2 separate regions of the Homo sapiens genome follow, and region 2 is linked to region 1. The links come from fine-mapping of genetic effects on gene expression. A gene starts in region 1. The other region holds a variant in brackets. All regions are shown on one strand. Distances are from middle to middle. Region 1 holds the start of SYNE3 (spectrin repeat containing nuclear envelope family member 3). Region 2 holds the start of LOC105370640 (a long non-coding RNA gene).

What was found. PIP is the estimated chance that this variant, and not a neighbour inherited with it, causes the effect. A credible set is the group of variants that fine-mapping cannot tell apart.
Region 2: its variant is the best candidate, but not a certain one, in a credible set for the expression of SYNE3 in whole blood (INTERVAL, PIP 0.66).

The regions. Positions count from the first base shown.
Region 1 is chr14:95,511,675-95,525,770 of GRCh38, forward strand. It overlaps SYNE3 (spectrin repeat containing nuclear envelope family member 3), which reads right to left and starts at 4,976. Exons shown (of 18, transcript NM_152592.6): 1 at 4,922-4,976. It overlaps SYNE3-AS1 (SYNE3 antisense RNA 1), which reads left to right and starts at 4,446. Exons shown (of 2, transcript NR_188030.1): 1 at 4,446-4,546; 2 at 5,330-6,237. RefSeq lists silencers at 4,378-4,672, 4,422-5,231, enhancers at 6,656-6,805, 12,118-12,412 and a cis regulatory region at 12,435-12,837.
Region 2 is chr14:95,394,516-95,411,730 of GRCh38, forward strand. LOC105370640 (a long non-coding RNA gene) reads right to left here and starts at 10,591. Exons shown (of 3, transcript XR_944174.3): 1 at 10,427-10,591; 2 at 4,083-4,317; 3 at 1,648-1,764. SYNE3 (spectrin repeat containing nuclear envelope family member 3) reads right to left here. Exons shown (of 18, transcript NM_152592.6): 18 at 12,751-17,215. The variant G/C (reference allele first, on the strand shown) is at 6,542.

The sequences.
Region 1 (14,096 bases):
ACTGCACTCCAGCCTGGGAGACAGAGCAAGACTCCTTCTCAAAAAATAAATAAATAAATAAATTAAATAAAATAAATAAAATGATCCTATCAGTTTAATCTCAGGTATACTTCCCGTCTCTCTCCCTGAGTGCCCTAAGGAGGAGCCTTGTGACCCAAGACTCTCACTGGTCTGTCTGTCGGGTGGTGTCTGCATGAGAGTCACACAGCTGTGGCAGCCTGGAGAGAAGTGTATTCCCTACGTGTGTGACCTCGGCCAGGACACTTCGTTTTGTTATAAAACCAGTAGATTGGTCCAGGTGACCTGAGGTTCCTTCCAGCTCAAATATTTCAGGATTTTATGATTCAGAAGCATAAATCATTAGGCCAGGACCTTTAAAAATCCTGTTGATCATCTGAGGTCATAGAGTGTTATTATTATCTTACTTGTTGTATGATTTGGGAAGACAGAGATCATGTCTCCTACATTAAAGATCGTGTCTCCTACATAAAGATTTATGACACATAAAATCATGTGTCATACAACAGAATTTTTTGCTTTATTTTTTAAATCCAGCCAGATTAACATTGGAATCTGAGGAGAGAGGCAGATTTTCTAAGAAAGCATCTGAAAATGCTCCACATGATCTTTTAATTTCATTTGTATTATGTAAGATTATATATATATAATGGAATATATGCGCCTCCTATTTGTAAATAATGAAGCATAAAAATATTTAAAAATAACGCCCTTAGCCAGGCATGGTGGCACATGCCTGTAATCCCAGCTACTCAGGAGGCTGAGGCAGAACAATGGCTTGAACCTGGGAGGTGGAGGTTGCTGTGAGCTGAGATTGTGCCACTGCACTCCAGCCTGGGCAACAGAGTGAGACTCTGTCTCAAAAAAATAAATAAATAGGCTGGGCACGGTGGCTCATGCCTGTAATCCTAGCACTTTGGGAGGCTGAGGTGGGCAGATCACGAGGTCAGGAGATCAAGACCATCCTGGCTAACACGATGAAACCCCGTCTCTACTAAAAAAAAAAATACAAAAAATTAGCCGGACGTGGTGGTGGGCGCCTGTAGTCCCAGCTACTCGGGAGGCTGAGGCAGGAGAATGGCGTAAACCCGGCAGGTGGAGCTTGCAGTGATCCGAGATCAGGCCACTGCACTCCAGCCTGGGTGACAGAGCAAGACTCTGTCTCAAAAAATAAATAAATACATACATAAAATAAATAAAAAATAACACTCACAAGCCTACCACTGGACTGAAGAAACAGAACATAATGGATCCCACTGAGAGTGAAACAGACATCTCCCTGATCAATTACCCACTTCTCCCCAAAGATAATCACCTTGATTTTGCATTATCATTCCCTTGCCTTTTTCTTTTTTAAACCAGCTTAACTTTGTGAAATAGAATCTACGTATAAAGGCATGTATAAAACATACATGTAATTAGCCAGTAACTACAAAGTGATCTCCTTTGTAACTGCCCCCCCGACTCTCCTGATCCTCTCTCACCTTTCCTCAGCACGCGTGGTAATGCTTGGCTTTTATTTAAGCTAATCACCTTCTTGCTTTTTGTCGTCATTTTACTTCTCAGCTATGTGTCACTAAACAACTCATTGCTTAGTTTGGTTGTGTTTTGAGCTTTTATAATTGCCTTAGCAGTTCTCCATGGAGATGCTAGGATTCTCTATACCACGTCTGCAGCCTAGAAACCCAGGCGAGAGATCCAGGCTGCACTCTGGTGTTACAATGATAGTAGAGGGTTAGTAATAATAAAAACCATCAGTCCTATTTATGGTGTGCCCGCACCATGCCGGGCATTCTGCTAAAGCATCATCCCCAGTTACCTCAATTATCTTCGCAGCAACCCCAAAAGGGAAGTATTTCAAGAGGTCAAAATTAGGGCATCAGCTTCCCAAACTTGTCCCCCGTCCACTTCCTAGCTTCCTAGCTGCTCAGCCCCAGAACATCATCCCTAAGTCCTAAAGCAAAGGTTCCTTTCAGGATGGGAGGGTCAGGAAACACTGCTGCTCCTGGGTTCCTATCTTTGTGGTCCAGTCAGGCTGCTTAGATTATATATATATATATATATATATATATATATATATTCAGAATCCATATTCTTTTCCAGCAAGTACTGATGACTTAATGAAGACAAGCATCCTGTCCGGTCAGTACTGTTTTCCCAGTGATGAACGTACAACTTTGTCCTTGGATTGTCTAAGATAGGCCATGTGGTGCCAGGAAGAGCATCAGGTCAAAAGCCCTTAGTTCTAATCCTGGCTGTACCACATCCAGCCGCTGGATATCAGCCTTCTCATCTGTAAATGGGCAAGCAATGACAGCCTTGCCTACTACCAGATCCTAGGAGGTGAGAGGCAGGAAGAGCTTTGGAAGACCCCACGAACACATTTGAGTCCCTCTGTAGGCTTCTCTAGAACCCTTCAGAGTTGAAAGGGGTGACCAGGAACCTGGGAAAGAGTCCCAGGGCAGCCCAGGGTTGGAGCTTCAGGGCCAAAGTGGTTAACTGAAAATATTCATTATCACCCCGCCCAGGCTGGAGTCCCCTGGCTTCCAGTTTTGAAGCAGAGGTCAGCTAGGCGGTGTAGGACACTGCTCCTGGGTTGACCAATGGGCCACATCAATGGGTCAGCTGTTTGGGGTCAAGAGCCTCCTGCCCTCCCTGGGGCCAAGGGCCAGCTTTCAGTGCTGGGAGGACCATGAGGGGGGTGAGCCAGGACTACCCACCATTGACAGACAAGGGGAAATCAAGGCAGGGAGAAGAGGGGCAGAGGCAGAGCAGAGGGGAACCCAGGTATCCCGACGAGGCCCCTTCGCCTCAAACTGTGACACCTTCTCACATGTGCTGTGTCTGACACCATACAAAATGCTGATCAGGGCAAAGCTCGTTTAGTGCTCATGAGGCCCTGCGAGGCAACACCTGCCGTGCTATGGTTAGCCCCTTTCCACGGGGAAGGACGCTGAAGCTCTGAAAGGTGAAGCAACTTTCCCAAGGCTACACAGCCAGGAACGGGCTAAGGCAGGACTGGACTCAGGCAATCCAACTTGACTGCCCCATTCCTAACAGCTGGACAATGCGGGAAGCCTAGCTGCCCAGTGGGTTCCCAAAGGCTCCAGGGTGCTTTTGACGTTGAGCTGGGCCTGCCCAGTCTTGCCTCCCGGGGCCGCCAAGCCAGGGCCCCCCGGCAGCCCGCTCCAGGCTGCATCACAAGGCAAAGGGGCTGCCCAGGCATGGCCAGGTCCATGGCTGCTGGAGAGCATGCAAAGCACCCGAGCAGGAGCCTTGTTCCCATGGAGACAGACAGAAAGGACTCCAACTCACTCTGAAGTGTACCTGCAGGGAGCCAGGTGCCAGACTGTACCTGGAGGCAGAAACCTGAGCCTGGATTCTCACCACTTCCCTCTGTGCCACCAACACATCCTCAGGCCTTCTTCTCAGGACCCCCAGCAAGACACGAGTTCCAGAAATAAGACATCCCAGCCCACTTCCCGCTCAGCCACCCCCAGAGGGGCCTCTCTGGTTGAAAACAACGCCTGGGGCCAGCAGGCTTGGCACAGCTGTGGCTGTCAGCCTGCCGAGCACCGTCCGGCCTGAGGAATGTGCAGACCCACATGTGCTGGAGCATCCCGCTGGGGCACAGTGACAGGAAACTGAGCAAAACAGCTCGTTGGCACTGATATGCCCCTCCCACCTCCCAGCTCCTGACTCCTATGGGCTGTTGGCTGCCCTGGAAGTGCAGGCGGCAAGCCCAGGCCCTTCAAGAGAGCCAGGCAGTGTGGCTCTGGGCAAATCACTCCCCCTCTCTGGGCCTGTTTCTGCTTCTCTTGGTGGATGAAGGACGCTGTCCTGCCAAGCTCAGAATGGCAGTGATTTTATGACATGCTCTCCTTTCTGGGAGGACGGTCCATTCTCCTCATGCCCTCATTCATGTGGGATGGGGCATGCCCCCAAGACACATCAAGCTATCCCACTAGCAGCCCTTGGCTGTAGAAAGCCCCCCCACCCAGTGCAGGGATAAGGGTGACCCTTCAGAGTTGAAAGGGGTGACCAGGAACCTGGGAGAGTCCCAGGAAAGCCCAGGGTTGGAGCTTCAGGGCCAAAGTGGTTAACTGAAAATATTCATTATCACCCCGCCCAGGCTGGAGGCCCCTGGCTTCCAGTTTTGAAGCAGAGGTCAGCTGGGCGGTGTAGGACACTGCTCCCGGGTTGACCAATGGGCCACATCAATGGGTCTGCTGTTTGGGGTCAAGATCCCAAGACCCCAGGGGAAGTCAACATCCATCTGAGGCTCTCTCAGGCCCTGCAAGCCATCTCTGGCCTCACTGCCCTCCCCTTTAGAAATGTGGGAATGAGGCTCAGAGAGGTTGAGCTGCTTGCCAAGTTTGCATAGCCAAAAGGCGTCTGAACGAAACTGAGCATTCGGGGTTGGACTTCCCCTCTTCGCCGCCTGCTCTGCTCTCCCAGGCACTACTGAGCGCGCTCGCGGTCGCCAGGAGCGGATTGGGCCCCCGCCGCGCGCAAGCCTTGGTGACAGGTCAGCCCGCCCCTAGGGGAGGCAGAGGGAAGCCCCGAGGAGGCACCCGGCCCGCTGGGGCGCGCTGCCCGGGGCTTTAGGGCTTTTTCTTGTGGGCCGGCCGAAGCTCCCCGGGGTTGAAAGGAAAGGCTCGGGAATTTCGCAGCCAGCACAGAACGGTTGGATTTAAACTAAAAATACCCGCCCGCCCGCAGCTGTCACGCCGGGGCCCCCGCCCCCGCGCCGGGCGCGCCTCCCCAGGTCCCCCAGACTTTCGGCGCCCCCGATTCCCGGGGCTGTGTCAGAGCTGGGCCAGGGGCTGAGGACCCCACCCGCCCGGCCCCCGGCCCCCGGCCCCCGGCCCCAGGCCTGGCCTCCCGGCCCCGTGCCACTTACCCTCCCGGAGCGTGGAGGAGCGCGGCGCCGCGGGTAGCTGGGGCCGAGCCTCCTTCCCTCCTCCCTGCGTCCCGGGCGGCTCCGGGGCGGGGCAGGGCTGGGGCGGGCCCGGACACCGCGAGTACCCCCGCCCCCGCCGGGACCCGCCCGGTGGCCCCGCGGGAGAGGCCGCGCCCCTCTCCGCACGCGCTCAGCGGAGGCCCCGGGTGCGCAACCCCAGCCCGGCGGACATCCTGCGTGGCCCCGGGGACCAGGGCCGAAGAAAAGCCTCACCGCTCCCTGTCGCGGACCCGGGGCGGGGGTTAAGGGGGGGGTCCTGTCCACGCTTGCCTGGAAAGCAGCCCGGAGCCCTGGCCCCTGTCTGTCTCCCCGACACACACACAGCCACCCACCCTCTTCTCATCCTAGGGGATGGCGCGGAGCTGCCTCTCCGGGAAAGTTGGATCTGTGCGCCCAGACATGGAAAAGGGATTAGGACACCGGCAGATCTTGCCCTCACAGAGCGGAGGTGGGGGCCTTGGAAGGGGCACACCGCCCGTAGGCGCGAAATCCAAGAAGAAAATGACACTCATCAGCCAGCCTCGCGCGGGGAGAAAGGGCGGGGTGGGGGGTAGTGGCACCCTGCCCGTCCTCTCCCACCCCCACAGTCCGGGCCCACAGTCCAGGAGTCACAAGGGATGTGAATCCCCAGGCATAATGTGAACCCCCAACAAACCCAAGGCCTCAGAATGCGCCTCACCTCTCCCTCCCCACCAGCAGAAACATCCTCCCACTCTCCCAACCCCTGCTCCAGCCACGCCAACCCTTTAACCTTGTCCCAGAATGTCTAAACTGTATCTGCCTCTGTGCCTGTGCACATGAAGTTGCCTTGGCCCGGCGTTTGCTCCACAGCCTTCTGCCAAACTCCTACTGCTTGATGGCTGGAAGCCTTCGCACCCTGGCGCTCTCCTCCCAGGTCAGCAGTCACTGGCCTTCCTGTGCATCCAGCCCAGCTTTGAACAGTCCTGGGCCCCAACCCTTATCTTTTTCCGAGTAATTACATGGTTGCATGATTGGCTTCACCGCCTCTGGATCAGATGAGCGCTACTAATGAAGGATACAAGTTGTAAAACTAGGTTTTATGTGAACTCCAGTCATCACAGTTTAGGTGCGGCTAGCGATTTTACAGATGCGGGGTTAGTAACTGGCCCAAATCCAGGGCTTCCGGGATGCTGTTTTCCTTTTTTGTTTCTTAGCAGGGATGGCAGATGTTTGTAGAACAGATCCGTGTAAAAGTCAGTATCCTAAGAGATTAAATTGTAAAGCAGGACAAGATAGTTAACGGTGTGTGTGTGTGTGTGTGTGTGTGTGTGTGTGTGTGTATGTCTTTTCCAAATTGAGAGGGAGGTAGAAGAATTAGCCAAAACCCAGGATTCACTCTGAGGTAGACCCACACCTCTTAGTTAGATCCCATTTATTAAGCTGTAATTATTCACAGCGTTGCTGAAGATATACACAGGGCCCCTCCCATCTCCCTGCGACTGACTGGTTCCAAGTATGCTATTATATGTGTTATTATCACTGTGGCTCAATTAGAAGTGCTGCCGAAGGCCTTGAGGTTGCCACAGTCAAACTGCAGGTGCAGGCAGCGAGTAACAATGATTATAATGCCTGCATCTGGATCGCGCTTTTTGCTTTTCAGAATGCTTTCAAATGTGTCTCCTCATTAAATCTCTGCAAACATCCTCCAGGTAGTTAGGAAAAGTTTAATGAGTTTTGCCTGACAAGGGAAACCAAGACACAAAGAGGGCAGGTGACTTGCACAAGGAGAGAGATGGCTCCCCCAGGCTGCTCCAAGGGTGGAGCTGGCCACTGTAACTCAATGTCCTGCAGGAAGAGATGGTTGGGTACAGTTAGGAGCTCAGGCTCTAGTGCCAAAGTGCCCAATTTGCAACTTTCAGCTGATTACTCATACTTGGTTTCCTTTTCTGTTGAATAGATCTAATAATAGGAGCTTATCTTGTATGGTTTTGTGCCTGGTATTTGAGCACCCAACTCAGGCGAGCTGTTATGTTATGGTTCTGGGAATGGTATGATTGCTACAGTTTCTGCCATACAGCTATTCAGTCTTTCGTCAAACATTCCTGAGTATCTACTATGTGCTAGTCTCTGGGAATATGAAGAAGAATGAGGCATAGACTACTACCTCCAAGGAGGTCAGGGTGTAATAATTCTGTGTCAGGGGACCATGGTGCACAGAGATGAACTGTCCCTCCTGCTGCCGGTGCAGTGCAGAGCACCAGTTCAGAGCAGTGGAGATATTCACTTTCCAGGCCCAGCTTTGCTACTTATTTAGCTGAGTGAATCTTACACTGTAAGATTCTGTTACACATACAGTGTGCACATACAGTCTAATCTTACACTGAATGTGACCTCTTACAACATTGGTTTTTCTCATCTGTTAGATGGGGATAGCAATAATTTTTCATAGGTGAAAACACATGTGATAAACATATTTTATAAAGTACAAAATACTGTGCAGATAGTTTTGTTATTATCAATGTGATTGTTATTATCTTGGGCTTTACAGGGCTTGCTGCTTTTCAGAATACTCTCCCATTCCATTGCTTTTCTTAGAGTCTCGCTCTGTCACCCAGGTTGGAGTGCAGTGGTGCAATCTTGACTCACTGCAACCTCCTCTCAGATTCAAGCAACTCTTGTGCCTCGGCCACTTGAATAGCTGGGTCTACAGGCACACACCACCACACCCAGCTAATTTTTTGTATTTTTAGTAGCGACAGCATTTCACCATGTTGGCCAGGCTGGTCTCGAACTCCTGACCTCAAGATATCTGCCTGCTTGGCCTCCCAAAGTGCTGGAATTACAGGTGTGAGCCACCATGCCCGGCCATCCATTACTTTTCTTAAGCCTGACATAAACATCACATCAAAAACAGAACCCTATTTTTTATTTGATGCCAATCTTTTTCTCTCCAAAGTAGTCCACATGGAAGGAAAACAAAAGTTGAGTAAGCAATGCGAAGGGATGGGGCAGTTTACAACTAGGAAGTCCACAATACCTTCGTCTTCAGCATTACCTGCAGCTACATAAGGGGGTGGACATGAAAACCCATCTGGAAAAAAAAATCTGGCAAAGGATTGGGGGAAGAGCCCCTTTGTCATCTCTGGAATTGAACACAGGAAACCCCGCCCTGAGACCTTCCTTTCAGAAGCAGCCCAGAGAGGGAACCACAAGAAGGGCACTAAAATTATGCTGTTCGGAAGTTCTGACTCACTTGGCAGCGCGGGCTGTTTGTGCAACGTACCAAATGTCCTCCAAAAAGCGAAGTTTTTACCACTCTTTCCCTCTGTCCCTTCCCTGCAGCCAGCATCTCCACCACCACTCATGGGGAAGCAGGAATCAATTTAATAAGCCTGGGGAAATTATCTGGGTCTGTTTCACATTTGCTGTTGGTTAGCCAGCTTCAGTGGCAATCTGCACAATCCTCATTTTGTAAGCATGATTTTTTCAGTTGTTTGTGTGTGTGTGTTCAGTCTCCACAGATAGATTACAACAAAAGCTGCAATGGCTTTTCTGGCTAATAAAACACCTCATGGGTAAACTGAGGCAAGAGAGTAGGGACGAGGGGCATTGCCCAGGGTTCCAGGATAGGAATTGCTGTTCAGAACATTTACATTCCCATCTCTCCATCTCTAGCCTGGCTTCCCACTTAGTGGTGAAGTACATAAGTGCTTTCAGCTTAATACGGATGAAAAGCTCACATTAAGGGTGCCCACTTCTGGGGTGCCCCATCAGAGAGGTCTTGGTCTGAGCCTGGAGAGCTCGTTCTCAACCCAGTTCTGCTCTGAACTTTTCCTTCTTCTTTGTTTTTTCCTTGCCGGTTCTCCAAGTGTTAGCCTGTCCTTTCCCACTTGGGTGCTACATGTGCTTCTAGGGTGAGCACAGCCAGCACCCTGGTTTGTTCACTTCCTCATGGGCAGCTGCCACCCATCAACTGAGCAGAGGTACCCCTCTGGGTGGCAATGAGTCATCTCAGTACCAAGCAGGGGAACTGGAGTAACTTGGAATATTCCTCTACATACATTTAATTGTACTGCATTTATAAAATACAATTATATATAACATACAGGACTGGATTCTCGGATGATGGGGTTCTAACTCTTGTTAAGGCTGCTAACTAGCTGTGTAACCTTGGGTCACTTCTAAGTTTTTGAATCTGTGAAATGAGAGAATTAAAAAAGATTTTCTCTAAATTATTCCCCCAATTTAAGTAACTATAAGAAATATATATATACACACACACAGTATTATATACAATGTAATATATGTAATGTAATATACATAATACATTATGATATATTGTGTGTATGTGTGTATATATATATATATATATATATATATATATATACACACACACGCATACATATATATATTGTATTGGCTGGCCAGGTACAGTGGCTCACTCCTGTAATCCCAGCACTTTGGGAGGCCAGCGTGGGAGGGTCGCTTGAGCCCAGGAGTTCAAGACAAGTCTGGGCAACATGGTGAGACCCCGTCTCTACAGATAAATAAATAAAATTATCCAGGCAGGGTGGTGCATGCCTGGTTTCAGCTACTTGGAGCTGAGGCAGGAGGATTGCCTAGGCCTGGGAGGTCAAGGCTGCAGTGAGCCATGATTGCACCACTACATTCCAGCCTGGGTGACAGAGTGAGACCCTGTCTCTCTCTCTCTCCATTATATATCTTTTTGAAAAAAGAAGATCTTGTTTGTATTAAACAATCATCATTTAACATAACTAAACACCACTACTATTATACTCCAAGGAATAAATACTAAGATAAACAAAAGTGTTAAAGGAAAATTGATAAATTTTATTCCTAAAAAATAAAATCTGGCTGGGTGCGGTGGCTCATGCCTGTAATCCCAGCACTTTGGGAGGCCGAGGAGGGTTGATCACCTGAGGTCAGGAGTTCAAGACCAGACTGGCCAACATGGTGAAACCCCATCTCTACTAAAAATACAAAAAAAAATTAGTCGGGCATGGTGGTGGGTGCCTGTAATCCCAGCTACTCAGGAGGCTGAGGTAGACGAATTGCTTGCACCCAGGAGGCAGAGGTTGCAGTAAGCTGAGATCAGGCCACGGCACTCCAGCCTGGGTGACAAAGTGAGACTCCATCTCAAAAAAAAAAAAGAAAAGAAAAGAAAAAACAAAAACAGAAAACAAAGAAAATATACAAAATTCTTCTGGAAGAGGTCTGCCATGTTTCTCGTTTCTCCCAACAGTGGGAAGCCTGGTCTATTCTTTCTGCTTCTGTTGGGACTACTTTAAATGCATGTGGGTTTTTTGTTTAATTAAATGCTTTATTTTGAGACCACTGTAAATTCACATGCAGTTGTAAGAAATCATACAGAGAGGTCCCCTATATGCTTTACCCAGTTTCCACCGATGGCAGCATCTTACAAGACAATGGTACAGTATCACAGCTAGGAAACTGACAGACACCCACACGACACAAAACGCTTCCGTCACAAGGATCCCGCATGCTGCTCTTCCCCCTTTCCCCATTCCCTCCTTAAACTCTGGCAGCCACTCCTCTGTTCTCCTTTCTATAATTCTGTCATTTCAAGAATGTGATAATAATGGAATCACACGGTGGGACTGCCCTTCTCCACTCAGGGTAGTTCTCTGGAGCGTCACCCAGGCTGGCTCCCGTATCGAGTCTGTGCCTCCTCGTTGCTGAGCAGCAATCCACAGTGTGACGGATGCATCACGGGCTGGGTCACCCTTCCCTTGTTGAAGGACATCCGGGTTGTTCCTGGTTTTTGGCTATTATCAATAAAGCTGCTATAAACATTTTGTACGCACATGTGTGTCAATATACATCTTCACATCTTAAGTTTCAGCTGTTGGATCTAATACCCACTTACAATCCCATACCATCAGATTTCTCTTACTTTTTCCTAGTGATGAACGCAGCTAGTGATGAAGGATGTTTAAGTGTCCAACAGTTGCCCAGGATTGGGTCTTGAGTTGCAGAAATCTAACAAAAACCAGTTACATGGTTCTTGCCATCAAGAAATTTACAGTCTGTTGGGGAAGTGACATTAAGACACACGAATCATTCACAGAACTAAGTAATGCTGCATGTCATCAAATGCGAGACTGCATGGTACAAAACTGACTTGTAGAGGAACCCAGAGACAGGAAAGAGAAGTGACAACACGAGTGTTTGGGGAGTCCTCTGGATAAGATGTGAGATATATCTCAAATGATGGACACAAATAATGATATTTTATATTTATTAAGGGCTTACCTACCATCTGCCACACACTGTTCTAAGCCTTTACCTATATTGTTAATTTAACCCTCATCATCACCCTTCAGGATAGCTCCTATTATCATCCCATTTTCCAAATGAGGGAAAAAAGGTGAAAACTTGGCCATTCACCCAGCTATTATGTGACTCACCTAGGGTACACACTCAGGCAGTCTGACCCCAGCACCCACTCCATCGCTGTGGATTCTGTCTCATAGCAATAGTGGTCATGATTCAATTCCATTCTGTTTCTTAGGTTATATTTTCCACACACAGCATATGCTATAGCTATGCTGAGCCTTCTGGAGGAAGGTTATTGATAAGTTCAAACACTGTTCAAACAAACCAGCACCACTGTTAGTAACGTAACAGGTGAGAAGTCTGTGTGTGATGTATCTGCTGGGGTGTGTGTGTGTGTGTGTGTGTAAACAGCAAGGCTGAAGCCTCCAGTTGTGTGATTATCTGTATATGCAGCAAAACACGCACACACCACACACATCAAAGTTCCCAGCTCTATATGATAAAACACAGAAGCAGCTGAGCCCATTTCAGATAATGAATGTGGTTTTGTATTCTCTGAATTGCTACATACCAGGAAAGTCACTTCCAGGCTCAGCTACCTCCTGAGTTGCTAAACATACAAGATGTGTGATCACGCTTCGCTCACAGCACTGATGGCTGCTCACCCTTTCAGCTGTATCATTTCGGTTAAAACAACAGCATACCACGAGCCCGGCATGTTTGCTTGCTTTTGTTTTGAAATCTAAATGCAGCCTTGATAATGTCGGTGCTTCCATCGATGGGGTGGGTGGCAGAGTGAAAAGCTCCCTGGATCAACATCTCCTGACTTGCTGTCTCTCTGAGCTCTGCATTTCCCAGTCGGCTGGGCAGAGGCGAGCCATCTCACCTCCTCCTGTCTCCACATTTAGAAAATGGGGCCAGTTCTTCCTGTTTTCCCTGTAAGAGCTGCATGAGATTCACATAAAGATGATGAAACGCACTGCAAACTTTAGATTCTGTGCAAATGTGTACGACTATGGTAAATTAAACCCTCCGCTTACTATGCTTCCAAAGAATGCTTCACGACAGACACCAACTCAGGAAGAGGCTGTGAGTAAGGAAGACTTCCCCACTAGGGAGGAAAATGAAGCTTTCCGTGTTTTTTTTTTAATCCCTGGAGACATGTTTTTGAACGTTGCTGAAGTGTTCTCTCCTTGCTTTGACAAGTGTGGCTGTTCTGAACATGTGATCATATTGGAATCGCTGTGTGATAGGCAGAGTGCCCAGGAAGCCAGGGAGGCTCTGAACCCAGCCCTGGCAGACACACGGAGGTGTGGCCTTTGTACCCTCTTTAGGGCAGTGGAACCCATGCAGGGCACCTGCACCACCCCCACCCATCCCATATGAGCAGCCGGTGCTTGGCTCTTCCGGGAAGCCCACACTTGGGGCCCAGCCCTGTCCCTCTATCCTAGCGGCATGGGCTGGTAAATGCCAAATAGGTCCATGTATCTTATAAAACCTGCTGCTCTTGATGATAATTCTTGACAGCCCAGGACACTTCCCTAACAGAGAAAGTTGTTTCATTGCAGTAGTCTAGTTCCAAAACCTTAGAATCTTATTGCCAACAACTGGCATGGAACACATGCAGAACAAACATTTTCCAACAGGACTGCCGCAGGTCCTTGCAATGGCAATAGCTGCAGCACCTGGCCTAAGATTTTAAAGAACTTTCATCCTAAATTTCTTCTTTGATGTTGTAGACTTGGTATGCAGAGAAAAATGGCCAGTGTCGCTAAATGCACCTCCTGGTTAATTACAAAGCCCTATTCAGCAGACAGAAGCAACCTCTATAAACAGGCAAGAGGTGTCCTCAGGTATTTCAAAGGTCTCGGCTAGCACCATGCCAATGGGATGAGTGCACCAGCTTCAGCAATCAAGCTTGTTTCATCATCCAAATGGAAACATTTCTGCAAAATGACTGGACTCTATCTGCTCTGTTCACTAACTACAGAAATGGCCTAAAACAAAGGTTCACACACAGACAAAAGTAACAGCCAGAAGACACCTGACAAATTCACTGGCCCAACTCTATCACGTTGCAGAGCCCCTTAGAGGTGAAGCGAAGCGCCCAAGGGCAGCAAACACTGATTGCATCAGCCCACACTGTGTTTACCTCCATTGCAAAATCCACGAGACCCTGGGTCCTTACCTGGCCTCTCTCTGTGGCTTCCTTTTTTTTTTTAAGAGACAGCCTTGCTCTGTTGCCCAGGCTGGAGTGCAGTGGTACTATCATAGTTCACTGCAGGCTAGAACTCCTTGGCTAAAGTTATCTTTCCACCTCAGCCTCCCAAGTAGCTAGGACTATAGGCACACACCACTGCTCCCAACTAACTTAAAACTTTTTCTAGAGATGGGGCCTCACTATGTTGCCCAGACTAGTCTAGAGCATGTGGCCTCAAGCAATCCTCCTGCCTCGGCCTCCCAAAGCTCTGGGACTACAGGTGTGAGCCCTCATGCTCAGGCCCTCTGTGGCTTCTGGTAAATTCCTCTTCCCTAAAGCACTTGCTCCTAGTTCTCCTCATGGCCTGTCCCTCCCCAGCGATATGCGTTCCCCAGGTTTTCTTCTCTGCACTCCTTCTTGCCCCCCCACCCGCCCAAATCTCCTTTATCAATAGATCCAGACCCGTAGAGGCAATAATCTGCATACTCTCTCCCTTTATTTCAGACATAACCTGATGATTTAGATGTTCCTCAGGCACCTGGAAACAGAAATGTCCAAAAGTAATTCCTGAACTTACCTTTCCAATCCTCCTTCCCCCTCCCGCTGTATTCCCTGCATCATCAAGTGCAGTCAGTG
Region 2 (17,215 bases), 120 kb before region 1:
ATGGTTGAATATATGGATGGATGATGGATGAATGGATGGAAAGATGGATGGATGGTTGGATAGATGGATGGGTGAATGGATGGCTGGCTTGATGTATGGATATATGTAAGGATGGATGGATGGATGGATGGATGGATGGATGGATGGATGGATGGATAGATGGATAATTGGATGGATGGATGGATGGATGGATGGATGGATGGATGGATGGATGAATGAATGAATAGACACTCAGAAAGTCTTTAGTCTCCTCTAGATTTCATCTCTGTGGCTGAGACAATGGCAAAGCATTTCTCTTTTCCATCCCCATCCCTGGAGCTGTCGTTTTTCACATCCATCAGCATCAAGATACTTCCCACTAAACTTCGTGGGTGAGAGCCTGTACTCTTTCCAAACCTCTCACTGAACCAGTCCACTCTTGTCATGAGAAAATAAGTATGTCATCTAATTACCAATGATGTCAGTCAAGGAACCTTAAACAAAGAGATTAGTTCTGCTTGTATTTGTTGGTACAATGGACATCATAACATATTTAACAGCATTGTAATGTGGAACAGATGGGAAAGACCCCAGCTTTCGGGGCCTCTCCATCTCTCCCACTTTCTACCAACAGCCAAAACCAAGCGACCTTTTAGAACACTTTATGGGCTGGATGCCTGCCAGAAATTGCTCACCCAGGGGCTGCCAGTACCGGCCCAGCCTGATAATGCCTGCTGGGTTCTTCATTGAAGACGATCAAGTTACAATCCTTGGGAATGCTGGAAATTCCACAGTGGATCTAGATACAATATTGGGGTGAAGCCCTCCCAAGCTTTACCCATTTATCATTGAGTTTCCACCGAGTGCTGATTATGTCATGGGATTTCCATCATGAAACCAAAATCTTGAGAAATCACCAAGGAGTAAATTTCAGTTTGGTTATGTGCTGGGCAACCTTGGATAAATTAGTCATCTCTCTGAGCCTGTGTCTTCAGCTGCAAAATAAGGGAGAAGAGCCAGCTGGACTAGTCATGAAGCCTGAGTGAGACAATGTCTGTAGAAGCCCAATAGGCACACAGCAGGTGCTCAAACTAATCTCGGCCCACGTGGGTGAGGGACTGAGTTTAGAACTCTAGATCTATTGAGAAACATTTCACATGCACCTAGTCTGTGGACCTGCATCCCACACAGAATTTTAGAATTTTTGAAATGAAAGGAATCTTGGGGACTATTTAAACCAAAGCTTGAAAAGCAATGGTCCGTGGGCCACACCCAGCCTGACAGCACATGCGTACACACGCATGTTAGCACAGGTATTTTTTAACAATATTCAAATTAGTTGCCACCTAAAAAATTTTTTTAACATTATAATGTGAAATCTTGAATGATTGAGAAACTGTCACTCTAATCCAAAGCCCACATCCCCACATGGCAATGATTGGACAAAGATCCCAACCTTCCCTCTTTCAGGATGTTTTTACACTTGGTCTGGGGATGTGGTTTGGATTTGTTTCCCTGCCCAAATCTCATGTCGAATTGTAATCCCCAATGTTGGAGGAGGGGCCTGGTGGGAGGTGACTGGATCATGGGGGCAAACTTCACCCTTGCTGTTCTTGTGATAGTGAGTTCTCATGAGAGCTGCTTGTTTAAAAGTGTGTAGCAGAGGCTCGCTGTCTTCCTCCTGCTTCAGCTACGTAAGTCGTGCCTGCTTCTTCCTCACCTTCTGCCATGATTGTAAGTTTCCTGAGGCCTCCCAATCCACGCTTCCTGTAGAGCTTGTAGAACCTGTGAGAGAATTAAACCTCTCTTCTTTATAAATTACCCAGTCTCAGGTAGTTCTTTATAGCAGTGCGAGAACAAACTAATACATCTGGTCTGCTCAGATGTTTCCTGTTTGGGTTCTGTAGGCATGTTAGTTCACAGACCCAGATTGAGAGCAATTCCTTCCCCTTTATAGATAATGAAACTGAGGCCAAAGTGAAGATGACAATAAGCCCCTCCCTACGACGGTCATGGGAGATATCACCAAGAGATCATGCAGTTCTTTCCTTGATCACAGCCTCAGAATCCCTCTTAACACAGTGCTCTGTGTTGGCAGCCATTCAGATAACCAATCAGGTACCTCAGGGATAAGAGATTTTGCTCAGGGTTCCCTAACTCTGCTCTATTAACCTTAAGGGCTTGCTCTCATCTGCTCTTGATAGTTTTGGGATTGCAAATGAGGAGACATAAACAGTGGGTTTGCTTCGTTGCTGTGTTGCAGGTTTGGAACAAGAGATCACTGGAGGGCAGGGCTGGACGGCAGCAAGGCCATTTTCAGGCTATGATCTTGGGGTCACCTTTCTACCTCTCTCAGCCTTGTTTTACTCTTCAGTGGAAGAGACGAAAAAGCATTTGACATTATTGTAAGAATCAAATGAAAGACTGTGGGTGGAAGTGCCTAGCAAACTGTGAAGGTTGCATTATCATTTTATTAGGCATGGTATGCAGTACCCATAAGGCAAAGGTCTCCCTCTCTGACTTCCTTGACTCCAGGGTAAATTTGAATTTTGACATATATTAAAATGTAGCTTGGGAGATATTCTGGCAACCGCACACTGTATGTTTTGCATTTGGCTTCCCTGGCCTTTGGTCAGGGTTGAACATGCATTTCAGCAAAAACATGATTGTAAGAAAATATTTCATTAATCAAATGCAATCTCTTTCTTTATAACCTCTGCATTACCGACCCCCTACCTGGCCCCAAAAAGGAAGGCTTGCTGCTTGCACAGACGCCTCCCTCATGGCTCCGAACCATACCCCTGAAGACCTCGCCCAGCAATACACGTTAGCCCACACAACCATGTTTTCCTTTCCAAACCCTAAAAAAAGAAAAGAGCCCTTTCTCTTTTCTTTACCCAGAGTAATCCTGAAATTATGCACCATATCCGGAAGACAGACATGGCCCCAAATTTAATTTTCTGGTTTCTGCAGAGCTGACTTAATCAGACCAGAGTCGAGGAGGGATCCCCCAGGGATGTACCCCCAGAGCTCTGCTACGGCTCCCAACCTGACAAGCCGTGAGACACGGTCACAACACTTTGCCCAGAGCACCATGTGCCTGTGTCTATGTAGGTCTCTGTGTGTGTGGTGTGGGTGCGCACCTGTGTATATGGCTTGCATGTCTGGCAATTGTGTATGTTGACTGTCTCTATCTGTATCCATATGTGCCTCTGTGGTGTCTGTGTGTGGTATGTAGTGTATCTGTATGTGTAGTGTATGTGTGCATCTGTGTGTGTTTGGTGTGTGGGGGGGTGTGTACACACATGTATGCAGGTGGGGGGTATGTGCAAGCATGTGCATGTGTCTATGATGTGTATGTGTGTGTCTGTATGTGGTGCATCCATGTGTGTATGCCTGTATGTGGTGTGGTGGGTGTGTTTGGCATGTGTGCATATATCTGTGTGTGGTGTGTGTTTTGTCTGTGTGGCATGTGTGTGTATGCATGGTGTGTGTGATTGTATGTGTGCAAGTGTGTGTATGTATGGAGTGTGTCTAGGTCTATATGTGCCTCTGTGTGGTGCATGGTTGTGTGTGGTGCATGGTTGTTTGTGGTGCATGTACTTGCACACAGGTGTGTAGTGTATGTGTACGTGTGTGTGTGTGTGTGTATGGAGTGTGTCCGTGTCCGTGTGTGCCTCTGTGTGTGGTGCATGGTTGTGTGTGGTGCGTGTACTTGCACACAGTTATGTGGTGTATGTGTAGGTGTGTGTGTGTGGAGTGTGTCTGTGTCTATGTGTGCCTCTGTGTGTGTGGTGCATGAATAAGGGGTGTGTGTGCATAGGCACTCAGGTGCGTGCACGTGTCTACAGTGTATAGCATGTGTGTCTGTGTGCCCGCGTGACCTGTCACCCATGCCCTAGGATGAAGAATTGATCGTGGGCTCGATCCTGGGGTCCCTGGGACAGTCCCATGCCTTGTTCTCTCCCATGTTCCTCATGGTTATGGAGAACAATGGTTTGGCGAGGACTGGCAGTGCTGTGAGAGATTTCCAAGGTGATTCACATCGAAACTCCCCGTTTGACAGAGAGGGATCTGAGGTACAGAGAGGGAATGGGACTTACCAAAAGTCACAAAGCAAGTTGGTGATGAGTGCGAGGCTGGAACCGATTTCTCCTGCCTCCCCGGCCAGTGTGCTTTCTCCCTGGACCCCTTCAGGGAGGTCACAGCCAGCCTGCTGGGGAGCTGGTCATAGGGAAGGACCTTGCTGGGATTTGGGGATGGACAGCTTGGCTACATGGATTAATCAGGTGGGAAACTGCACGAGCGATGTCCTTGAGCATGAGTTGACAAACGCTTCTGTGAAGGACCAGAGTAAATATTTTAGGACTTTGTAGCGCAAGAGGCAAAATTAAAGCTATTTTGTTGGTACTTACATAACCATGTAAAATGTAACCCACTTAAAAATTTAAAAACCATTCTTACTCCTTGAACTGTGTGAAAACTAGTGGCAGCTAGATTTGACCCACAGGTCTACTCCTGTCCGAGGCGCTGAGAATCAAAACAAACAAGTAGACAAATCTGAACTTACGAAACCCCAAACAGGAGCAAACACAAGAAGGTCAGTGCCAGCAGCCGAGAGCACAGAACAGGCAGCAAACAAAGAGCCATGGCGGTGTTGTGTGAGAAGTGCGGAGCTGAGGTCACAAACTGGCCTGCAGAGATTGGGGGTTGGAATCCCAGGTGTATGGCGCTCAATCACAGACTGTGGTCAGAGAGAGGGTCCATTTTCCAGGATGGTCCAAAATGAGGCAACGGAGAAGAACTCCATAGCAGGAGCAGTGCTCAGGGGAGCAGGAGCCCTGTAGGCTGGAGGGACCTCGGCAGATGCTTGTCCAGTTTTCTCATGGGTGGTAACCTCACACTGCCTGTCCTCAGTGCCATGGTCCACTTGCTGAATGAATGCCCAGGCCTGAAATCTTTGCCCAGTGTCTTATTTGGTCATTTTGTGAGCTGCATGTGTATGTGGGTGTTTTAGTCCATTTGGGCTGTTATAACAAAATATCATAGCCTAGGTGGCTGATAGACAACAGAAATTTATTTCTCATGTTCTGGAGGCTGGGAAGTCAAAGATCAAGGCACAAGCAGTTTCGGTGTCTGGTGAGGGCACGTTTCCTGGTTCATAGATGGTGCCTTCTTGCTGTGTCCTCACATGGTTGAAGGGGCAAGCTCTCCCTCTGGGGTCATTTTAATAATCCCATGCATGACAGCTCCACCATCATGACCTAATCACCCTCCAGAGGCCTCACCTCCTAATACCATCACCTTGCGGGTTAGCATTTCAACGTATGAATTGGGAGTTGGGGGAAATAAACATGCAGGCCTTACCAATGGTCCACAGCCCCCAGGATGACTACTTCTGCTGCAAAACCCCTAACCCTCAGCCCACCCCACAGCTTCACTTGGCATCCACTTGGCATTCACAGCTTCACTTGGCATCAGAATAAAGAATTTGAGCCCAGGCATGGTGACTCACACCTGTAACCCCAGCACTTTGGGAGGCCAAGCAGGCGGATCACTTGAGGTCAGGAGTTCAAGACCAGCCTGGCCAACGTGGCGAAACCCCATCTCTACTAAAAATTCAAAATATTAGCCGGGCGTGGTGGCAGGTGCCCGTAGTCCCAGCTACTTTGGAGGCTGAGGCAGGAGAATCGCTTGAACTTGGGAGGCGGAGGTTGCAGTGAGCTGAGATCGCACCACTGCACTCCAGCCTGGGTGACAGAGTGAGACTCTGTCTCCAAAAAAAAAAAAAAAAAGTATTTGAGCCTAGTTGACCTTGCCTGATATAATGCAACTAGTCAGATGTATAATGCTATAGGATTACAGCCCCCGTGAAGGCTGCTGATGAAAGACAATGGGGAAGGAACGTCCCCCACTGTCTTTGAAATGTGTATTTAGTAGTTCATTTTGCCTAGAAGGAGAAATGACTGAGAGTACAGATCTACACAGAAGAATGGGCAGTACCCAGCACCAGAGAGTAAGCTCCAGGAAGGCAGGGTTTGGGGGTTTCTGTTTTGTTCACCATTTTATTTATTCTTGATGTATAATAAGAGCTTAATAGTCCAGGTGAGGTGGCTCACACCTGTAATCCCAACACTTTGGGAGGCCGGGTGTGGGGGGGTGGGGGGTGGATCACAAGGTCAGGAGTTCGAGACCAGCCTGGCCAATATGGTGAAACCGTGTCTCTACTAAAAATACAAAAATTAGTTGGGTGTGGTGGCACCCGCCTGTAGTTCCCAGCTACTCGGGAGGCTGAAGCAGAAGAAGCGCTTTAACCTGGGAGGTGGAGGTTGCAGTGAGCCGAGATCGCGCCACTGCACTCCAGCCTGGGCAACAGAGTGAGACTCCATCTCAAAAAAAATTAAAAAAAAAAAAAGAGCTCAGTGATATTTTTTATTTAAATATTCTTTACTTGATTCTTTCCTTAAGGATGGTCAAGGGCTCGAAAAGGACAAGAATGGGGATTGATAACATGGAAGTTTGAGGAAAATATATATGGGTAGCCCTTTCAGCGAGATCTTGG[G/C]TATAACGATATGTATGTACTGTTTGAATGATCATCAAAAGTCCATCTGTGGAGAGAAGGCTCTTGATAATCAGGTGTCCAGACATCACTGGATGTCAGTTCAGTTGCCCATGAACAAGCAGGCCTGGTGGCAGGGATGCGACAGCTAACCTCATAATTTAGTTCACAGACTTCAGGACATCAAGTAAAATTGTGAATGAACCAGAGGAAAACTAACAGAGCACAGAAATGGATATATTGATAAATGGGACGTTTTGCTAAGCACTCACTTGCTCATACGGGGGTAGGTGCATTAGGTGGAATATGGGAGCTATTGTTTCCACTGCTGTTTTTGCTTGGAAGTTTAAATATGGAAATTGGGGTACACCGGGACATGAAGTATCCAGAGGCATGGGCCGTGGGGGATACTGTAGATTTGCTTATTAATTGCCCATTAAACTCCTTGCAAGATGTTTTCCCATAATGCAGAAGGGTAAAGCTAAAATGGCATTGGCCGAGTGTGGTGGCTCACATCTGGAATCCTAGCACTTTGGGAGGCCGAGATAGGAGTTCGAGATCAGCCTGGGCAACATAGGGAGACTGTCTCTAAAAAAAAAATCATTTTTTTAAAAAAATAAATAACATGGCATATCCCTGCCTCCTTTGCTGCTGTGTTCTAAATGTGAACCAGGTTTTTCCAATTCCAACTCTCCTTCATGATGCTGAGTGTGGGAGGGAGGTGCATGAGGAGACAGCTTGACATGGGCACCCCTTTGCTGCAGTGCAACGGAGGCGAGGCCTTTAGTCCGCAGCTGCAGTATTCTCCCTGTCTGGCAGCCTCCTGCGGGGCAGCAGCAGCAACTTTCTCCACCATGAAAGAGGCAGCATGGTCCTGAGGCTGAGCTCCTCCTGAAATCTCAGATTAGAGTCTGTTCTTCAACAATTTTGTGAGCCATTTTATACCCCATCATAAATCCCTTTCTCCTTAAGCTAGTTAGAGTGGATTCTGTTTTTTGCAACTGACTGCTGACTGATTCTAGACTCTCCCCTTAACAAGCATCTTCAGGACACTTGTAAGCCCATAAGGGAGATCCCGGACTCCTGGCAGTAGTTGCAGGGCAGTACTTTGGGGTCAGAGTATGCATCCTAGAGAATGTAAAAGAAGATACTTCTTCAGAACCTGCCTAGCATGACCCAGGAAGGCATTTGGGATGGGGTGGTATAAATAGCTTCCAGTTATGGAGTGTGTCCTATGGGCTGAGCACTGTGAAAGCCCTTTACACATACTATCCCATTTAATCCGCCCAACCACATTCCTTTGAGATAAGTATTCCAGAAGATGGGAGAACTTTGTTAAGGTCCAATGCCTTGCAGATTTGGTTGCTTGGAGCCAAACACTGATCAGGATGATTCCAAGCCTGTTCCTAGAACAGTTTCACCGTCACTTTTAAGGGAGTAAGTTAAGAGCAAAAGAGAAACTTCACATTTTTTTTCCAGGGCCATAAAAAATCATATTTTTAAAAATAAAATTTTTAGTGATCTTACTACTGGGAATTTATCCAAAGGAAAGGAAATCATTATATTGAAGAGACATCTGCACCTTCATGTTTATTGCAGCACTGTTCACAATAGCCACGATATGGGATCAACGTAGGTGTCCAACAACAGATGGATGTAAAAAATATGGGATATATACACAATGGAATACCATTCAGCCATTAAAAAAAGAGAAATCTCGTCATTCGTGGCAACACGGATAGAACTAGAGGACATTATGTTAAGCAAAATAAGCCAGGAACAGAAAGTTAAACACCACATGTTCTCACTCATATGTGATAGCTAAAAAAAGTTGATCTCATAGAAGTAAAAAGTAAAATGGGATACTAGAAGCTAGGGAGAGTAGGAGGAAGGAAGCATAGGGAGAGACTTGTTAAATGATACAAATTACAGCTAGATAGGATAAATAAGTTCTAGAATATTACACCACTGTAGGCTGACTATAGTTAACAACAGTATATAGTTTCAAATAGCTAGAAGAAGGATGCTGAATGTTCCCAAAACAAAGAAATGATAAATGTTTGAGATGCTGGATATGCTAATTACCCTGATCTGATCACTTACATTATATGTATCAAAACATCACTGTGTACCCCATGAATATATAACATTACTATTTGTCCATTAAAAGAAAAGAATTTTAAGTGTGGAAAGAAAGAAAATATGTAAGCTGATGAAAAAAGAAGGAAATAGACATTTTTCTAGTGTTCAAATCATACAGTGCTTGTCCTAAATACTGCTGAATTTGCCACTTGGAAGGGAAGACTAATCTGTTTTGGAACATGCCATTATTTAGCATGTAACTTTTTACTATTTCTTGATTATAAAGATATCATTAAAAACTGCAAAATCAGTTTTTGAAATGTTCAATGCTTTTAAAAATTCAGATCTTTTCATTTACTAGATTGGCAAAACAGATTATTGATAAGATTCTATTCATTTCATTCTAATGAAAATAGAAATGAAATAAAATGGAACAAACAATAAATAAAATTTTTGGCCAGGCGCAGTGGCTTACGCCTGTAATCCCAGCACTTTGGGAGGCCAAGGCGGGTGGATCACGAGGTCAGGAGATCGAGACCATCCTGGCTAACATGGTAAAACCCCGTCTCTACTAAAAATACAAAAAATTAGCTGGGTGTGGTGGCGGGCGCCTGTAGTCCCAGCTACTCAGGAGGCTGAGGCAGGAGAACGGAGTGAACCCGGGAGGTGGAGCTTGCAGTGAGCTGAGATGGCGCCATTGCACTCCAGCCTGGGCGACAGAGTGAGACTCCGTCTCAAAAAAAAATAAATAAAATTTTTATTTGGAATCATTTAGAAAAGGTGCAAAAACAGCACAAAGTTCCCATAACCTTCACCCAGTGATACACTCTGGATGTTTGTCCTTCCAGATTTCATGGAATCCCCAGTGCTGGAGGTGGGGCCTGGTGGGAGGTATTGGATCACGGGGGAGATTGCTCATGAGTGGCTTAGCGCCATCATCCCCCTGGTGATAAGTGAATGCTTGCTCACAGAGATCGGGTTGTTTAACAGAGTGTGGTACTTTTCTCCCTCTCTCTCTTGATCCTACTCTGGCCATATGACATGCTGGCTCCCTGTCACCTTCTGCCATGATTGTAGGCTTCCTTAGAACCTCACCAGAAGTGGATGCCAGCACCATGTTTCCCGTTCAGCCTGCAGAACTGTGAACCAATTAAACCTCCTTTCTTTATAAATATCCAGCTCCAGGTATTTCTTTATAGCTACACAAAAATAGACAAACACACCCAGTCTCCTCTAACGGTAACATCTTACATGTCCATGGGGAATTTGTCAACACCAAGAAATTAACACCAGTGCAATAGCGTTAATGAAACTGCTAACTTGATCTGTGTATCATTGGCCTTTCCACTAATGCCTGTTCACTGTTCCAGGATGCAATGCAGGATTCCACATTGCATTCAGCATTGTGGTTTGTTGCTTTTTACTTTTTGTTATCCCATCACCTCATTCCAAAGGAAAAGGGCCTCAGTGATTTGCACAAGCCCAAAGAGAGGAAACAGATAGCATGAGACAGGCCATGTCTCAGAACAATTTAGAGCAATTTCCCTCGCTGTCCATTGGTAGAGGAGCCCTCCTATTAGAAATTAGCAGCAGCAGGCCACAGTGAAAACCAAGCTGGAGCGGGGAGCAGGGACCAGGATGCACGCCAGTATGCAACTGCAATACGGAATTCCAGCCCGGAAGCCCTGAGCAAGTTGGGGTCTCTCCTTTTGCAGCATAATGAAAGGTAGCAGGACGGAGAGCCAGGGCTGCAGAGGCAGTGACAGAGGAGGCTGGCAGGGCCAAGTAGCTGAGTAACATTCTCACCAAGAGGATTCCACGAGAAGGTGATGGATCTCTCCAATTAACCATGTCATGGTTGGGCTTGGAAGCCGTGGATGAAAACTGAGGTAAGATAATTATTTCCATGGGACGCCTGGTTGTGAAAAAAATCACACGGTCATAAAAATGAATGAGTCGTCCAGCCAGAAACACTAGAGAACTCAGTAAAGATTTAGAAACCGTGTGTGTTTAATGCTACTCTCACAGTGGGCTGGGTTCCCACAAAAGGTGCTAAATTAAAACAAGGAAGGGTAAATCTAGTTTTCTCACTGAAACAGCGTTTTAACCCTGAAGTTCCTGACCCCAGGTTTGATGCTTCTGCTGTGGAAATAAACATGTATACCACGTTTAGTTAACATAAATGACACGTGGCATACCTTTATGTTATACGGATTAAGGCTTCTTCAGATCAGCTAAACAGGGCTATGCCGTGATCAATTCCATATAGACCTAAAAGGCAGAGCATCCCCGTGGACAGAGTTCTGTCTTTCTTCAAAAAGCATGCTGCTTTATTTTTTGGACAACTACTTAGAAGGTAAGGGTTCTTGTTATTCGGGGCCACAAGACTCACAAGTGTTTCTGTGAGGGTACTTAGCACCACTCTAAGACTTTAGACAATGGATCCCGATATGCTGGGTGAAATCACCTCCCTCAGTTGTAAACTCCTTGTAGCCAGCAGTGGTCTTGCTGCGGCCTGATAGTGGAAAGTGATTCTTCCATTTGCAGGGTCCTCTATAGGAGTGCTGGCAACCTGGCTTCATCTGCCCTAAACAAGGCAGATGGAAAAACCAAGGACCGCTCCTCCTTCCTAAAAGAACAGACTTTCCCACCCTTTGCCCTTTCTCTGCAGAACTGCTTCACCAAGTCAAAAACTCAGAGACTCATTTGAATGACATTTAACTCTAGGGCATGCACCACTGAACCAGATCCAAATCTATTACTTTTGATGGCAAAAACCATAATTATTATTATTATTTTTGAAATGGAGTCTCACTCTGTCGCCCAGGCTGGAGTGCAGTGGCGTGATCTTGGCTCACTGCAACCTCCACCTCCCAGGTTCAAGCGATTCTCCTGCCTCAGCTTCTCAAGTAGCTGGGACGACAGGTGTGCACTGCCACACCTGACTATTTTTTTTTTTTTTTGCATTTTTAGTAGAGGCAGGGTTTCACCATATTGGTCAGGCTAGTCTTGAACTCTTGACCTCAAATGATTTGCCCACCTCAACCTCCCAAAGTGCTGGGATTACAAGCATGAGCCACCGCTTCCAGCCTGTAACAACTTTTGCACCAACAGTTCAAAGTCTCATGCACGGCTCTGGACTCCACTTGGATTCATATGGAGACTAAAACTTTGTCTCTTCCTTTACCAGTCATGTAAGGAGTGAGGGGCTACAGATATAATGCTTCTCACTCAAGTCCCCCCACCCCCTATCCCGCCTCACCTCCCAAAGGGTGAGAAGGGTTTAAGATCACAGAGATGGAAAAAACTTAGGAAACGTATTACACACATTATTAAAATAATAGCAAATTTTTTAAAAGTTCTCACTTGGGAGAACAAATTATACTAGAGGCAAAACCATTTTATTTTAAATCCTTCTAATGACAGTGTTCTGAATTGAAGGGTACACTTCTGTTCCTTGGTAAGCAGAAGATTCTGACATACATTTTCCTTTTCTTGGCAAACCAAGGTCCTTGTTAGGAGCTTTTGTTAGCCTGTGGCAGCTCCTGGGTTTACTTGCCGGTTTCTTAGACCTGCCCTCAAAAGTCAGGATGGTGTCTCTGGCTTCTCCTGCATCTCGCAGTGTCCTCCCCTTCTCCTCTGCAGCTTCCAGTGCACTGTGAGTTACGAAACCAGATAGCCAAACCCAAGAATTCTTTGTGAAATAAACTGTCCTGGTGGGGCTTTGATCCCTGGGGTTGGGAGTGAAATGGTTGGAAAGGCGTCCTTTTACCTCTATCTGGGCTAGTGCCTGGATCTACTGGGGGTGCTGTTTCTCTACCAAATGCACCCAGAGTGCATTTTGGAATTCTCAGTATCCACTTGGCCTGCCCATGACCCCCACCCCTGAGACTGTGAACGAGGAGGTCTGGAGAGATGCTGAGAATGTGTTTGAAGATGCTCCCAGATGAGGCTGATATCCACATGAGATTGAGTGTTGCTGTCGCCCTGAGTTCAACCTCTGCATGAAAGAGGTTGAACTGGAAGTCAGAATTTTACAATGTCAGCCTTAGCCACATGTCATCTTTCTTCTCATAACCTCTTGGACAAACTCCTTTACTTCAGAAAACGAATTTCCAAACCACACAGTATTTCATAGACCAAAATAGAGATTTTTATTTCCAAACACAAAGCAGATACATTTTTAAAAACATAAAACAACAGCAAAAACGTCAAACCATCTTTTAGAACACTGCTACTTCCAACTTGCACAAAAGGAAGGGGAGGAAAACGTCAATGCAACTTTAAAATATAGCACTAAGAAGAAACTCCGGGGTCCTGGTGTTCCTCCCTGGATGGCGGGGAAGGCTCCATTAGCTTTGGACTTGATATGAACCGAGATAACACACACATGTTCCGAGACAGTCGTTTGGCTCCAATACTGCTTGCCTTCCCAGAAAGCTTAATTTATTGCAAATGCATGTTTTACCATCACAAATAATATGACAAGAGTAGATATGGTCCCTCTGCGTATTGTTTACATAATAGAATATTTAAAACAATGGAATGTGTTTGTCTTTGACATCAAAAATCATTTATGCAGCATCTACATGCACATATACACACACAAGTGTGAACGCATACACAAACACACACACACAGACACACACACACACACACACACACCCCATGCCATTGCTTGGTCCACACTGCATGAAACACACCATTCCAGCTACATGAACAGGTCAGTATCAGGTTAGTGTAACCAGGTCTCCAGGTACAAAGGATGAAGTGGGTTTGCTCACATAGACTTAGCTTAGGGTAGAGTGAACTTGTTTATGAGAACCTCGTTTATGCAGAGGTTGGACTCAAGGCGATCGCAGCACTCAATCTGGTGTGATCATCAGCGTCATCTGGGAGCAGCTTCAAAAACATTCTCAGCATCGCCCCAGACATCCTTGTTCACAATCTCAGGGGTGGAGGTCATGAGCAGGCCAAACTCACTCTACCCGACCTGCTGCCTCCAGGATGGGTTCTGAGGAGACATGGGGCCCTCCCATGGGACGGATGACAAATGAAACGAAAAAATCCATCTGGGTGGGGGGCTTTGGAATGAGGGCTCTGGTCTTTCGGACTTGAAATTGGAGGGAAAACGTAATCGTTCCTCCAAAGCTGGTATTGGAAACTTGCCATTTTCCCAACACACACACACAGAAAGAGAGAGAGAAAGGAGAAAATTTAGGACCCACAGAATTAAGCCCTCTTTCAAAGCAGGTTATCTGCTATCCTGAGAAAAAGAGGGCATCGTGTCTAAACCAGCCCAAGGAAATTCCCAGATGACACAGATCTAAGGGGTCATCTGACCTTCCCTTCTTTATGGAGAATGCCAGGGAGAGGCATAAAAACTCTGGACTTTGGGTAAAACGTCCTGAGCCCGATGTGGTCTCCCTGGCTTCTGAGAGACCACAGGCTGGTGTCTGTTGTGCTGAAGCCCAGAGCTGGAAGCCAGGGCTGCCCAGTTGTGCTTCTGCATGGAGATGTGTGTAGTACTCACACATGCTATGCTCACATACGCGTGCATCCCTCCCACCCTGCCCACCCCTTCACATGCACACACAGCTTCCTCTGTCCGCTTCCTCCTCCCCAGTAAAACTTCTGGAACATGCACAAGCGACTGCCTCCTTGTTTCTCCCATGAGAGGAATTGGAACTGCTCAGCAGGCAGAGACCGCGCAAAGCCAACTCTGTCCTCTGCCTGCCCCCGCAAGGGCTGGCCTGTCCGTGCTTTTCCAGTGGGAAGGTAGACAGACAGTGGGTACCTGCTCCCGTCCCCTGGGACCTCATCCTGGTGTTGCCAGCTCCCTTCAGCGGTGGGAGTCAACGGACTTCCCCGCAGGAGTGGGCACAGGAGGAAAGCAGCATGCTGCCCCTGCTTTGGAATGTTGCCCTCCAGCTAACTCACCAGCTGCCAGAGTGGCAGCAGCCCGCGGCCTGCAAAGGAAAGGAAAGCAACTGAGGCCCAGGGAACATTCCATAGAGTGGAGCACTGGGCTCGGAGCCAGTCATGCCTGGGTACAAGTCCCAAATTTACCACTCCCCGCCTAGCTGGCTGCTCTGAGGCAGGCTGCTGACCCTCTCCACACTCTGGTTTCTGATCATGACTCCATAGCACAGGCTTTTTGAAAGTGTCATGACCATATTGCAGGCGCTCGGGGTATGTTTTCTTCCCTCCCTTTCTCATCAGAACAGGAAGAGGGACTGTAGGACTTTGTCCCTCATCTCCACAGAGGTGCTGGGGATGGGCTGGCCTGGTGTTCCTGGTTGCTGAGCTCAGAAGCAAGCGTTTCAGAAAGGAAGCCCAGGATCCTCGGGGGAAACCGAGGTCCCTCCTTATGATTGCTGTCTCTCGGCTGGACAAGGTGGTTGGGTTGGGGATGATGTTACCATGACAACCGGAGAGCAGGTGCTGGGAGATGCTGAGTCCTGCTGACTGTGCTTTAAGGCCCTGAACATCCTGCTGAACCATTTGCTTTTAGACCACGAGCCTGTGTTTTAATGTTCTTTTAGAAACAAATTCCTCCTTGTTCTTACTTTGAAAAACAGAAGTCGTTTCTCTCATACACAGAAGCTAAGGGAGAAACGACAGCTGGTTTTAAGTCCTCTTTGACTCTGGGCCTCTGCTGAAGCAGCCTGCAGGCACTGGCAATTGGGTGATGAGGGCCACCTGTGGGGTGCCCCCACCCACTTTCCTTTTCAAAGCCTCAATTGTCTGCTACAAAACAAAGAGCTGGCCTGGAAAGGCTCAGAGATCCTCATTTTCCAAGATTTGCACCCAGGAGCTCCTCAAGCTCAAGAAGAAATGAAAGCAAATATGCATTGCCTGGGCTGAATCCAAACACAAAGAAAGTGTTCAAAAGCTTAGCCCTGGGTGCTCACCGCCAGGACAAAGACGGGAGGGGCTGTTCCTGCACAAAAACTCTGGCAAGCTGGGCAGATCTATTTGTCGGTTCCCAAGCCTTGCAGGAAGAATGTCTACAATGCCTTTGGGTAGACCTGAAGGACTCAGGGTCCCCTGAGAGGAGGTGGCAGGCCGTGGTGGCAGGTCACTCTCACACTGCAAGGATGATGCCTTCGAGTTCCACACAAGGAGCATACAGCCAAGGCATGGAGGGTCAGGACAAACTCTGGTTTTCTCCTCCAATTGTAGCAGAGACAGCGAAGTGCCACTCCAAGCCACCCTACCCTTCATTCTTACTAGAAGAGCCCCCATCTTTTTGGGGCACATGTTCCCAGACTCCTTGCAGATGTGGGGGAAAACATGTGACACAGTCCTGGCCAATGAGATGAGAACGGAAGTGGCTGGTGGAGCTTCTGGGAAAGCTGCTAATGAGGAGGGCAGATTCGTCTAGTTCACTCCCCTTCTTCCTACCTGGAACCCAGATGAAAAATTGGAGGTACAGCAAGCATCCTGGGCCATGAAGTGACTGTGATATAAAGGAAGGACAGTTGCAAAGCCTTGGCTCTGACATCCATAACCTGAGGAGACGATGCCAGCAACCGCCTATATCTAGACTTCTCAGGAGGAGAGAAAAGTAAAGTCTCTGACTGGTTTAAGCCAAAGTTGGTCGGGGGAGGAGGGATTCTGTTACTCGTGGCTGAATCTAGGGATTTCTCTTCCAGATGCGAGCCCACGCGCACAATCCTAGGATACCTAATATTTCAGGGAGCACTGAACGCTCCAGGGCTGACTTCCCTCCTTACCAATAGGTGGGGGGAGGTGGTAAGGAACTGGACCAATGTCACACAGCCCATCAGCAGCAGAGTTCCAACTCAACCCTGTCTAGTGCTGAGCAGTATCAAGCTGTCATCCAGTGGGTGCAGAGACCGACCCCCACTCCTGGAACTAACTCCCTGAGCTCACTGGCCAAACAAGAACTGCTGAGGTCTCAGAGTCCTAACCTGTAAAATGGGTACAAAGTTGGAACAAGACAGTCTATGGAAGCCCTCCAACTCTGACAGCCTGAAGAATCCAGGTATCCTCCTTCAACAGAGAACTTAGCATTTCCTAATCCATTTTGCCTCCCCTAAAAGTCCTACTTGGCAGTTCATCCCATTGTCTGCTTTCTGGGGCTAGTTTGTCTCACCCAATTACTAGATGAAGGAAAAATGATTTTTTGATTGGGAACATCCTAATTTTAACATAAATTCAAAAAAAAAAAAAGAAAAAAGAAAAGGAGACCAGAATTGAGAGCTTTCTGAGAGGGCTGGTACAGGTGTAAGGATGTCAAACAGGTTTTGCTCACATAAGAAAATGATTGATTGGCAGTAGCTTGGAGTAGTTTTGAGGACTGTGAGGTCCATTGGGTCAGAGAGTGGGGAGTGGGAAAGGTTGGTGATCAACTATTTTGATGTCTGTCTTGGAAGCAGCAAGGGCTGTAGTTGCCCACACCTCCCTCCAATGCTGACCTAGACTGGTGACAATGAGATTGGGGTGAGAATTAGCTGAGTGCCCATGAGAGAGGGAATTAGGGCAGGATCCCGCTGGGCTATGGACACAGAGGCTTCCTGGCAATCACTGCAGACACCGGTGAAAAACACTCTGATTACAGAATCCAAA